Linked DNA regions of Homo sapiens: all the other regions are reported to be linked to region 4. Evidence: microRNA targets listed by miRTarBase, many of them from high-throughput screens and not tested one by one. Region 4 holds a microRNA gene; each other region holds the end of a gene's coding sequence.
What was found. The annotated mature microRNA hsa-miR-6793-3p reads UCCCCAACCCCUGCCCGCAG and lies in region 4 at 1,970-1,989, shown strand. An mRNA with a match to its seed (bases 2 to 7 or 8) in the 3' UTR can be bound and repressed. Matches are read on the target gene's strand: a 7mer-m8 pairs with bases 2 to 8, a 7mer-A1 pairs with bases 2 to 7 and ends in A, and an 8mer does both.

Region 1: miRTarBase lists FNBP1L as a target of hsa-miR-6793-3p. The part of its 3' UTR that is shown has no 7-base or 8-base seed match.
Region 2: the mRNA of SP1 is a reported target of hsa-miR-6793-3p. Seed matches in the 3' UTR shown: 8mer at 752-759.
Region 3: miRTarBase lists CHML as a target of hsa-miR-6793-3p. Seed matches in the 3' UTR shown: 7mer-A1 at 2,067-2,073.

What each region holds. Positions count from the first base shown.
Region 1 is chr1:93,551,998-93,555,220 of GRCh38, forward strand. It overlaps FNBP1L (formin binding protein 1 like), which reads left to right. Exons shown (of 17, transcript NM_001164473.3): 17 at 412-2,664. The coding sequence ends at 419. Among named protein-coding and RNA genes, the nearest start is that of TRC-GCA7-1, 37 kb to the left of the region's middle. RefSeq lists a silencer at 675-969 and an enhancer at 1,017-1,545.
Region 2 is chr12:53,410,514-53,413,736 of GRCh38, reverse strand. It overlaps SP1 (Sp1 transcription factor), which reads right to left. Exons shown (of 6, transcript NM_138473.3): 6 at 1-2,810. The coding sequence ends at 2,497. Among named protein-coding and RNA genes, the nearest start is that of AMHR2, 12 kb to the left of the region's middle.
Region 3 is chr1:241,631,017-241,634,239 of GRCh38, forward strand. It overlaps CHML (CHM like Rab escort protein), which reads right to left. Exons shown (of 2, transcript NM_001381853.1): 2 at 1-3,223. The coding sequence ends at 2,780. The region is part of intron 1 of OPN3 (opsin 3); the gene reads right to left. Among named protein-coding and RNA genes, the nearest start is that of CHML, 7.7 kb to the right of the region's middle.
Region 4 is chr19:10,827,047-10,830,046 of GRCh38, forward strand. It overlaps MIR6793 (microRNA 6793), which reads left to right and starts at 1,927; the gene lies at 1,927-1,989. It overlaps DNM2 (dynamin 2), which reads left to right. Exons shown (of 21, transcript NM_001005361.3): 19 at 1,990-2,222.

The sequences.
Region 1 (3,223 bases), not on the chromosome of region 4:
TTGACAAATTTTAATTTTTAAAGGAGAAACTTTTTGACTATCTGGGTTAGAGGAAGATATGTGTACCGCCTTTAGGGCATTTTGTTATTTCCGCTGAATCATTAGTTATTAGGATAGATAAATTTTTCCAATTAGTTTCAGCAAGCGTTGTTGGAAACACTGTGCAGTCAAGGATTGTGCAGTGCTGGTTGTGTGACCACACCCTGAGTCAGTGGTGTGGGGAAGTAAAGTGTGAAGAAGCAGTAAGATTGGTTTTTAATTTTGCCCATGTTTTAAATTTTCCTGGTGTTTTCGGTAGCTGACTATAAAATGATAGAGACATTTGGGACAGGCACTTTAAACTGAACACCCCTTTTGGTTTTACCAAAGGTCTTCAGTAATTGTTCTTTTCTTTTTCCTCCTGGACTGCAGGTTCCTGAAGAGGGTTTCTGAGGAAATGGGCAAGATGTTGAAGGAGGTTACATGCAGCTGCTTTTGGGGGAGGGTATTAGAGTTGTCAGGCTCAAAGAGAGTGAGAGAAGCAAGTTGCATGAGTGCATGCAGACATGATTTTTTTTTTACTAACTTCATTAGCATTTCCATACATTGTTTTTAAAAATCATAATACCAACCCTTAAGTTCCTAGTTCACAGTTATTCCCACAAAAGAAAAAGCCAACAATAGTGTACCATTTTTCTATTTATTTTATTGCTGTCTAATCAATAAAGAATGCAGAGCTGTCAAAAAATGTGTCTTACATTAGCTGTCCCAACAGGATTGTCTTCCCTCCCAGCTCTGTTTTAATTGGCTTTTAGACCCACTATCTGTCAGATCCTTGCCATCTGTCAGTGTCTGCCTGCGCCACCTCCGTGCTTGCTTAACATCCTGTTGCATGTCTAGCGTGATTGAGCTAGATTTTTCAGGCATGTCTTTAGATTCCCTTGTTCTTGTCAAAGCCTTGTTTTGTTTTACATTTGTAGTGCAAATCACTTTGTCAAACATCTCCAGCACTAATGTTTCCATCTTAGTATTTGTGCACACTGCTATAACTTCCCCACTGCAAACATTCCAGTTTTGGCATTACGAAGAAGTAGCTGTGAACCTGAAGTATTTATGATAAGAAAAAGAAAACATCTCTGCTGTAGCCTACAGCCCAGTTGAAAGAACTCTTTGAAACGTGATACATCTTCAGCACCTCAGTCTGGGAAGAATCTAGTCAGCACTGAAATCCTGGCATAATAAACACAGAAGATATTCACCACCTCAAGACAAAGGACTATTGTCAAAAGTCAGCTGCTTCCATTCAAATGCTGCCTTAAACTTGAGTGCCTAAATCTGTTGATTGCCAACACTACCACTACAGTATCCCACAAAGGGCTTTATGTGTCAGCTCAGTGCGACCTGCTTTAACTCTGCAGCACCGCTGCAGCTGCCGATGTAGCCTCGGTAGGTGGCTATTAGAGCTCTACCATATACAGTGGTGCATCTTCAAATTTATGCATCAAACTAAAGACATGTCCAAGTCCATTTTAATTTCCTCAGTGGTTTTATGAGAAGTTTTATGGGCCTCCCCCAATTGTCTTTTTATTTTGGGTTATGACGATCATGTTTGATAATTACAATGATAGTCTCTTTCCACGTGATGCTTTTGTTTGAACCTGATAAAATTTAGTGAAACTTTGTAATGATCTATGTGCACTTTTACTTGTAAAATGGAATTTCTGTATGTTTATACTTGTAAATATGATTGTTGTTAGTGCTCCTGTTGCTCATGGTGTCCTGCCTCGCATTTGTGATTCTGTTAATGACATGTATCTTAACTAATTTCTTAGTGGTGTTGTAATAGGGAGATGGGGCAGGTGGGGGGTTATTTGTACCACTGAATCTTCATTAATTTGGTTCTTTACTGTTTTGAGGGGAGAAAGAACGTGAAATGGTTTGTGTATTATTGAATTTTAAGCAATATTTTAGAAGCTGTGTGACTGCTTTAATAACTTTTTCCCAGTGTTATTTGAATCATACTACCCGTTATACTAAAGCTGAATGACAATTGTGTGAAAGTTACTGCCTTCATAAGATCAAGTCACCACTGTTACACAGCTGACATATAGTGTATTACCTTTGCAGCTAGTAAACTATAAAGTTTAGATATTGAATCTCGTTACAGGGTTATTTATATAATGTGACATTATTCAGTACTGACAGACTACATGAAGTAGTTTTAAAATCTAGTGCTATTTTTATTTTAAAGGTTAGCAATGAGGAGGAAATGTGATCTGGCTGTGTTTGTCTTCTGTACAAAGCCTGAAGTGCTTATGGTTTTTTGGCTAACAGCCACAGAGGGCAAAGTTTAAGACTTTCTTGTAAGGACTAACTGTTCTTTTCAAGCTACTGTTTGTTTTTCTAAAAGCAGGATTTGCTTCCGTAGGAGGCAAGTTCCTTGATGTGGAATAGTGCAACCTGTATATGGGTTATTATAATAGGAAAGACATTTGTACTTGCACAGTTTAAATCATTCTTAAATTTTGAACATGTGAATTGTCCCAAAAAATCTTTAATTTTTTGGTAATTTTTACTCTTTTTGTGCACATGTTGATTTCTTAATGGTAAATCCTTCATTTAAAGATAGTGTTCTCTGTTGAGAATATTTACATGGAATAAAACAATCTTTTCATGGCCTGTTAAGGTGTTTAGTGTGTGATCTTTCATTGCTATGTGAATCAGAGATGTGATGATTTTGTTCTTGAATGTGCCAAGTCTCAGATAATACAGAGTAGATGACAAATTCCATAAGTGGGACAAGTTTTTTTTGTTTTTTGCAAAGCAGTTTTGGAAATTGTATTCTAATTTTGGTTTCTCTAAGCTTTCCTAAAGGAAAAAAAAAGTTTGCTGTCTCTTTAGAGTGAATTTAAATTGCATGCAATAATTTGGATTTATCTTTCTTCTCCAGTAGCTGTGTTGCATAGACTTTCCTTTTACACCATCTGTCCACTGCAACCATACGAACTGTCCCTGTACCTCATAGCCCAATCTAGCCACTACACGCTGGACAGCATTTCCTGTGCTCCGGCTTGATTCCTAATCAGTTACAACACCCAAGTCTTCCTGGCATTTCAAAGCATGGAAAGAACATTTGCCATAATTAGTGACACATTATCTGTAACTTCAGGAAGTCTAATTTCAGAAGATTCACCTTTTAAAAAATGCAAATGTGAAACTATGACTGCAAACTTTTAGAAACTCA
Region 2 (3,223 bases), not on the chromosome of region 4:
AATACTGTACATTCCAGTGAGTTATCCTGCCCCTTTCCTCCAAAAGATGCCAAAGTACATGATTACAGACATAAAATAACAGGTTCTGAGTTCTGCCTTTCAGTGAGAATAAAGGGTATGATAGTGGCTGTGCATGGATGACTTGTATCTCAGCGTTAATAGAATTTGATCTGGGGAAAGTTCCTTGCCATAGTTCCTGAGTTGAAAACATAATTACATCTGTGGAGAAAGGACCAAATGGAGTGAACTATTGTTTAGAGTATTAAGTTACTATAGTTCAGATTAAACAACACACTTACCCAAAACTTAATTTGGATGGATTTTATATAAAATATATAATAGAATCATACCATCATCTATTTGTAGCCAAAGTAAAAAGATTTATGAGAAGAATAAGGACTCTGCTATAGATCTGGATGTTGGTTTCACTTTCAAACACAAAAATAGTTTCTTTTTAAAAAAGTACAGTAGAATATCCTCCATTCATAATTGTAATTAATTTAGCATAAGCAAAGAAATGACCTTAGGAACATACCCAGGTTTTAAGATAGATTTCTAGGTAATGGGCCTGAAAGGCATTTTGATCTGAATTTATTTTCCAACGATTTCAAATATAATTTGTCATCTGTGTGTAGACATATACGGGCATGAACACACATTCACCCACACATACAAAAACACTTGCTTTCTATCAGATCAGGGTAATTTTTTTATTGCAGGTCTCTTTTAATATTGGCTAGCAGAAAACCTATCCCCAACCTAACAGATTACACACACACACACACACACACACACACACACACACAGAGCTATTTTTCCACACTTCCTCACAGTGAAAAGCTCTCTAACAAGATACCAGAAGGTCGAGAGAGACAATGCTTTTATGGCTGGGCCTTGAGGACAATTCTGGTTGCATTTAAATCTCAGTGCCAAATGCACTAGGTTCCCTGCCGTTATAATTTTTGGATCAGTCTCTTCTGAAATCAGGTCACAGAGAAAACAGGATGATTTCTCCCAATCTCTCCTATAAAACACTGTGGTAAGACAAGATTTCTTTTTGTTCTGGGCTATCATTCCCATGATCATGTGCTTCCCTTTCCCTTAGGAACCACCCAAGAACATACAAGGAAAAGTTAAGGGAAAACATCATAAGAACCACTGTCTTGCCACTAGCACATGCTTTGGAGGAGTTCTGCAGAATGGAAACCTGAAACAGATTCACTGGCTGATGCTCCTTATTGACAATGGAAAAGAACCTAGTGGGGATGTTCAAAAGAAGTGTATTTCCTTTCAGAATATAAACTCAGAAGCCCACACATCAAAACTTAGAGCTACCTTGGAAGACAGCAGTACCAAAGTCCAAATACTCCACTAACTCCTGAACCTGACTACGAGTCATTTCCTCTTCTGAGCACATGATTTTCCTAGTGAAAGCCCCCTACCTATTATTTGAAAATTTGACAGTTTATACAAACTGAGCCAAGATTATTATCTTCAAAGGGACTCTTGTACAATTCCACTGAAAGACTTCTAATTCTTGATGCTCAGAGCAGCTAATGAAGGGAGATGCCTTTGACTCTCCAGCGCCAAGAAGGTGCCTGCGTCAGTAGTATTTTGAACACTCCCTCCACAGTTACTTCAAGCATCAGCCTGGGCTTCAAGGATTTTTCCATTCTGCTGCTGGAACTAAGGTCCTGAAAAAATTGACAGAAGTGCCTCATCCAGGCAGTAACAAAAACAAAACATGAAGTGATCAGATGAGAGAAGATGAGACGGCAACAGTTGAGTTAGGGAAGGAGTGCAAGAAGCTGATCCCAAACAAAAAGACAAAATTAAGAAAGGAAAAACATTATGTATGTATATATGAACTAAAAGCAGAGCATATGAACGCTTAAGCTGGTGGGAAGCCAAGACAACATCTACAGAAAAGCTTGATGTGTCACAACAAGGCTCAGCCATAGGGAAATAAGGCAATATAAAAAAAATGACCAAGGTATTTTGGTCACAGAATGGTCTTCCTCCTCCCAGCCAACCCCTGTGAATGCATCTCTATATATCTTTATATATATATATATATATATAATAATATAGAATCTGTTTTTTGTTAAAAAGTATTTCAATGATCATATATATTTATCAAGGCATGATGGCTTTAGGAAAGGGGGGGGAATCCATCATGGAAGAGCTGAGAAGAGAAATGCAGGAAGGGTAGGCTGGGGTAAGAAGTGTAAGAAGAAACTGGGGTCAAACAAATGCTCATCAAAGCGTGGCACCAACAGAATTTTCACTAATGTTTCCCACCTTCAAAGAGGCACTGATGATACAGATGGGTGCCGGGACCCCATCTCCTCTCTTGTATCCCTCTCCTGATTCTTCTCAACACCATGCATTTTAATGCTTCATGGCTCTCTCTTCCATGTCTCTTGGACCCATGCTACCTTGCATCCCGGGGTTAAGGGGTATGGCCCATATGTCTCTGGCCCCGGGTGCCTGATCTCAGAAGCCATTGCCACTGATATTAATGGACTGCAGATCTGCCACCTGCATGACGTTGATGCCACTGTTGGCAAGACGGGCAATGCCCTCTGGACAGATGGCCTCCATGGCTACCATATTGGTGGTAATAAGGGCTGAAGGAGTGGCAGTGCCACTGCCTTCTGAACCTGCCCCACTGTCCAGGGGCAAAGTGCCCACACTCAGAGCTACACCTGGGCCTCCCTTCTTATTCTGGTGGGTCTTGATATGTTTTGACAGGTGGTCACTCCTCATGAAGCGCTTAGGACACTCAGGGCAGGCAAATTTCTTCTCACCTAGGTAAAGGAAGAAAAGATAAGAAGCTGACATGTTAGGAAGTGAGGTTACCTTACCCAATTCAGTGCTTACTCTACTAAGCTGAGTAAGGCCAGTATGAGAAGGTGATCAAAAACAAGAAAAATCTTCAAGTGGCTGGGCGTGGTGGCTCACGCTTGTAATCCCAGCACTTTGGGAGGCCAAGGCGGGCAGATCACGAGGTCAGGAGATCAAGACCACGGTGAAACCCTGTCTCTACTAAAAATACAAAAAATTAGCCGGGCGTGGTGGCGGGCGCCTGTAGTCCCAGCTACTCGGAGAGGCTGAGGCAGGAGAATGGCGTGGACCCGGGAGGCGGAGCTTGCAGTGAGCCGAGATCGCGCCACTGCACTCCAGCCTGGGCGACAGAGACTCTGTCTCAAAAAAAAAACAA
Region 3 (3,223 bases), not on the chromosome of region 4:
GACAATTTGAAGCATACTGTCCTTCATGATACATGGATAGACATTATTTAAACATTTGAAAAAGTTCACCAGTAAGTCCATTAGGGTCAAAGTCCAACCTGTCAGAAAATTATACTGGGTTACAATATCCCCTAAATTTTTAAATGCTTTTTATTGGTATAACTTCTCATTTCCCACTTATTTTGTATTAAGAAATATATTCATTTTCTTCATTTCTAAATCAACCTTTATTTTCGACTAATTTTTCCTATTTCCATTATATTCGGCTATACCATCTTTTGCAACTTCTGATTGTTCCTTTTCTCAATTTCTTATGAATAATCTGTGATACTGAAAATCTTTTCGGTAGATCTGGAATACCTTCACCTTCATTTTATTTATCATCTTATGTATTTCTCATTTTAATTACTATTTTATAGGTCTATTTCAAGTATTTCAGTTGTTCTGTTAGATTTAAACTTTAGGATAAAGTTTAAATATGACTTTTACTATATTTTTAAAAGTCAATACAATCCATGACTTTGCTACTTTAAGTAAGTTGTCAATTACTTAAATCTGTCTAGTCTCATTTTCCTCACATATAGAGGAGCAAAAATTAGTGTATTCCGAACAAATTTTGGCCTGATAATATTTTTTGTAACACAATCTTCAGATCATGAGATGTGTTACTGAAGAACATTTTGTTAAAATTTAGCCAAATTCTGCTTCGAGATCCATGCTCTAAAATATGTTTGTTTAGTTCATCTTATCTTCACATTTCTCTGATTCAATAAGCTGCAGGACCAGTGTGTGCTTTTTACCCCCGGCAATGCTAGACTAATTTTCGTGGGCACTTTCTCTTTCTCCTGCAGCGCCTACACTCTCTAACAGTGAATGTTAGTAGAAAGATCAAAGGTTTTAGAATCACAAAAGGCTGGGTCCCCATGTTGGCTCTTCCACATACCAGATTCTGAGCAAATTACTAATAATTCTCTTATTTCTTCTTTGAAGGTGATATGGTTTGGCTGTGTTCCCACTCAAATCTCATCTTGAATTGTAGCTCCTATAATTCCCACGTGTTGTGGGAGGAACCTGGTGGGAGATAACTGAATCATGGAGTTGTTTCCCCCATACTGTTCTCATGGTAGTAAATAAGTCTCACGATATCTGATGGTTTTAAAAGGGTTTCCCTTTTCACTTAGTTCTCATTCTCTCTTGTCCACCGCCATGTAAGACGTGCCTTTCACCTTCCACCATGATTGTGAGGCCTCCCCAGCCACATGGAACTGTGAGTCCATTAAACCTTTTTCTTTACAAATTACCATCTCAGGTGTGTCTTTATCAACAGCATGAGAACACACTAATACAGAGGGTACATGCGAATTTGCCTCACAGGATTGTTGAGAAACTGTCATGAGAAAGCATAATACTAGGTACCAAACACATGATAAATACTATTTCAGAGCAAAAACTGTCACAGGGATCATCATACTCTGACTGAAGAATGGAAACTGGACTAGAGGAAAAGCAAGTTCATGTCTTCTGACAGCTCCACAGGTTTTCACCATTAGAGTACTACCAGTTTTATGACGTTGGGTGGCTCTGGGAGAAAAAAAGTTTCTATACTCTGGATAACAGCTAAGAGGCAAGAGAGATTACAGAAAATTGTTACTTCACAATTTGTTAAGTGGGACACAACCGAAAGGGCATGGTAAATCCTCCTTTGATTCATTCCTATCAGTTATGTTATAGTGATATTAATTAAAGTGGTAGAGCCAACAAGGTGGTATGTTTCATTCTCACTGAAAAACCTTGGGTAATCTATTTATAGAGGGTTTTATAAGTATCTGTAATCTCAGGTTAAAAAGGCCTCACTCTGTTTCTCCTTAGGAATTCCTAAGAATTCCTCCTTAGGAATTTCAGAACAGCCCTTCTGAAGTATCTTCTCCTGGGGCACTTCATTTTTCCTTTTGGTCTAAGTTACTTATTGGAAGCTATTTTAAGTGCCAGGGCAGGGCTCTGCAGAAATTTTCTGAAGTATTAAATAAGAATAAATCTTATCTTTCAAATTTCCTTTGCAATCAACCTCCCCAAAATGAGCTTTACAACCACTAATTGAACTCCAATTCTTTTTGTAAATTAGAATACTGTGGTGGCATCATTGCCTCATCAGTTACAAGGGTCAAGTGAGTATTATAAACTTCAGACCTTCACAGTGCATAAAGGATCATGCAAAGCTAATCTTTAAACGATTATAGACAAATGTATTTTATTATCATATTGGCATTTGTATTAGTTGCTATTCCTACCACCATGTCTATACATTTATATTATATGCAAAAGATCCACATAATTTACCATTTGTGTATGTTTCACTATTCGAACAGGCCGCAGCAACTGTAACAGCTGCAAAAGTAATTAAAATATTACTTGGGTATTACTAATTGTTCTGTAGACAAAGATAAAATCTGAAGATCATTAGCAAATACATTACCTTTAAGCTGAGTTGCTAATATGGAACCCTTACATATATACCCAATACTAAAATAAAGCTAACTCTGTTTTAAGATTCTGGGTCATATAGCCCATTCTAAACAAAATGTTCAATAATCAATAAATCACTCATTGATAGGTTAACAAAGATATTCAATGCTGAATGTCTGAGAGTTAAAGACAACATCTGCATAGCATTCATCATATATAACCACTTCTAATTACTCATATGGGAAACTGTCCTTTAAATGAGAAAATTCTGATGCCATGAAGGAGGTCCAAAACAGCATTTCGAGATTGCTCTTTTCTAATTTTGAAGGTGCTTCTCTGGGCTTTCTAGGTTTTTGCTTTCCTCAGAGGATTCTAGTTTGGCCATTACTACATTATTGGTTCCAGGAGCCTCTGGCTGCTTATCATCACCATCAAAGATAATGTCTTCTGGATTTGGAGGTGGAGGGCAGAATTCTTCAGTTGGAAAGATCTCCTGGAAAAGTGTTTCAGCTTGCTTGACAGCATGCTCATTTCCCAGGCCACAGTCAGGCCCAGAGCAGACATAAACATTGGAAGGCAAGCCATTATACGAGCTTCTGCTGATTCCCGAGGAATCTCTCATATTAAAATAAAGAGCCCACAAGAGTCTTGGCTTTGTAAGTTCTTCCTCGTTTATTTCTGTTTCAGTATACGGAGTGAATAATTTCTTCACCACTGATTCTAAGTCTTCTCTTGCTGTTTTAGAAGATGAACATGTCAA
Region 4 (3,000 bases):
CAAGACCAGCCTGGACAACATAGTGAGACCCCATCCCTATTTAAAACACACACACACCTCCCACGTGCCATGCCCTCCCACCCTGTTGCTCCCATTCTCAGTAGTGATCAGTGTTCACAGTTTCATGGTGTCCTGGTATGTTTCCTCATATACCGATAGGATCGGAGACATATACGGTTCTTCTGCTATGAAATTTAAAATGCATATATCCTTTGACCCTGCAAGTTTACTTTTAGGAACTTCTCTAAGAGAGACAATTGCCCACGTGCAAAGTGAGCTTATACATGCTTATTGTTTTCCATGATGTTTTATAGCAGCCAAAGATGGGACATAATTATCCATTTTTAATAGACTCTTATAAAATAAAAATATTTTATTATTTAAGAAAATAATAAATCTGTCGGCCCAGCTACTCGGGAAGCTGAGGCAGGAAGATCACTTGAGCCCAGGAGATCGAGGCTGCGGTGAGCAAAGATCGCTCCACTGCATTCCAGCCTGAGTGATAGGAGTGAGACCCTATCTAAAAAAAAAAAAAGTTGTGACGGCCAGGTGTGGTGGCTCATGCCTGTAATCCCAGCACTTTGGGAGGCTGAGGCGGGCACATCACGAGGTCAAGAGACTGAGACCATCCTGGCCAACATGCTGAAACCCCCCTCTACTAAAAATACAAAAATTAGCTGGGCGTGGTGGCACGCGTCTGTAGTCCCAGCTACTCTGGAGGCTGAGGCAGGAGAATCACTTGAACCTAGGAGGTGGAGTTTGCAATGAGCGGAGATCATGCCACTGTACTCCAGCCTGGTGACAGAGGGAGACTCTGTCTCAAAAAAAAAGAAAAAAAAAAGTAACTGAAAAACTTCTGTATCCAGTAGGAGGTTCCAGAAAGGACAATGTATAAAATTCATGAACAGAAACTAGTAGTGTTTGAACAGAAGCCAGGTGGAAGATGTAACAGGATTAGCCGGGCGCAGTGGCTCACTCACGCCTGTAATCCCAGCACTTTGGGAGGCCAAGGCGGGTGGATCACCTGAGGTCAGGAGTTAAAGACCAGCCTGGCCAATATGGTGAAACCCCATCTCTGCTAAAAATACAAAAATTAGCCGGGGGTTGGGGGGCACGCCTGTAGTCCCAGCTACTTGGGAGGTTGAGGCACAAGAATTGCTTGGACCCAGGAGACGCAGGTTGCAGTGAGCCAAGATTGCACTGCAGCCTGGGTGACAGAGTGAGACTCTGTCACAAAAAAATAAAGATATAACAGGATTGGCTGGGCGCGGTGGCTCACGCCTGTAATCCCAGCACTTTGGGAGGCTGAGGCAGGCGGATCATAAGGTCAGGAGATCGAGACCATCCTGGCTAACAGGGTGAAACCCTGTCTCTACTAAAAATACAAAAAATAAGCTGGGCGTGGTGGCAGGCGCCTGTAGTCCCAGCTACTTGGGAGACTGAGGCAGGAGAATGGCATAAACCCGGGAGGCGGAGGTTGCAGTGAGCTGAGATTGCACCACTGCACTCCAACCTGGGCGACAGTGAGACTGTCTCAAAAAAAAAAAAGCAAAAACAAAAAAGATATAACAGGATTATTCTGCCAAGGTTAAGGAAATAAATAAATAAGCTAAAACAGGAGAAAAGACATCAATGGAAGAGGCAAGATACTAGAAATAAGTTGAATAAGAATCTCATAACCAGCCTGGGCCACATGGTGGAACCCTATCTCTAAAAAAATTACAAAACTTAGCCAAGCATGGTGTCAACGTGCCTGTCGTCCTAGCTACTTGGGAGGCTGAGGCAGGATAATTACTTGAACCCGGGAGGCGGAGGTTGCAGTGAGCTGAAATTGAGCCACTGTACTCCAGCCTGGGTGACAGAGCAAGACTCTTTTTCAAAAAAGTCTGGGGGTGGCCCCGCCCTGTGAGAGATGTTTTTCCAGCAGTCACTGTGGGTTCTGGGTTGGGGTGATACACAAGCCTGACCCTCCCCAACCCCTGCCCGCAGACGAAGGCCTTCATCCACCACGAGCTGCTGGCCTACCTATACTCCTCGGCAGACCAGAGCAGCCTCATGGAGGAGTCGGCTGACCAGGCACAGCGGCGGGACGACATGCTGCGCATGTACCATGCCCTCAAGGAGGCGCTCAACATCATCGGTGACATCAGCACCAGCACTGTGTCCACGCCTGTACCCCCGCCTGTCGATGACACCTGGCTCCAGAGCGCCAGCAGCCACAGGTCCGGAAGCCTGGTTCCCCTACCCTCAAGCATTCGGCCTGCAGGTTCCTGCCCTCCCTGTGTGTCCTGCAGGGTCCTGGCAGGAAACAGGACACAGCCCAAGGGTGGCACCCAGGGCTGGGCACTGTGGGAGCTGCTGCCCTGCTGAGGCCGGAGGAGGGAGAGAAGGGGTATGGGGGCGAGCCAGCCCTACAGCTCTAGGGCAGGACCCTGTGAATAAATACCCCGCCTGCCCTCTGCTGGTGCCTTCCATTGGCACAGCCCAAATGGAAGCTGGGGTAAGAGGCTGGAGGGGCAGCAGCCACAGGAGAGAGATGAGCCTCCTGGAGCACAGAGAAGGGCAGATGGGAGGCTCTGGAGGGGCAAACGCAAGGCGTGGCCAGAGCTGCTGCCGCCCCTGAGTTGTCCATTGAGGCCGTCGGGCAGGGAACCTCAGAGGGGGCTGCCTTGCAGAGCCCTGGGGGAGCCATGGAGTTCCTTAAGGGGAGGATATCGCACCCAGGCCTGCAGGTGGCAGGGACTGAGGCCCAGGAGGGAATCTGGATGTCTGGACAGGGCTTGCAGGTTCCACGGCCCCTAGAGATATTAGGGCTTGATCTGGAGGACTCTGGAAGTGTCTTTGGCTGTGAGGGTGGATCCCAGGCCCAAGGCCTGAGGGGGCCCTGTGAGTGGGAAGTGCCTGAGGGGGCCGAGGGCAAGGGAAGGTGGGACTGGCGCTCAGGTTGGGGTGGGAGGATCCCACTGCGCCTGCGCTGTCCCCATAGCCAGCCCCCACCTC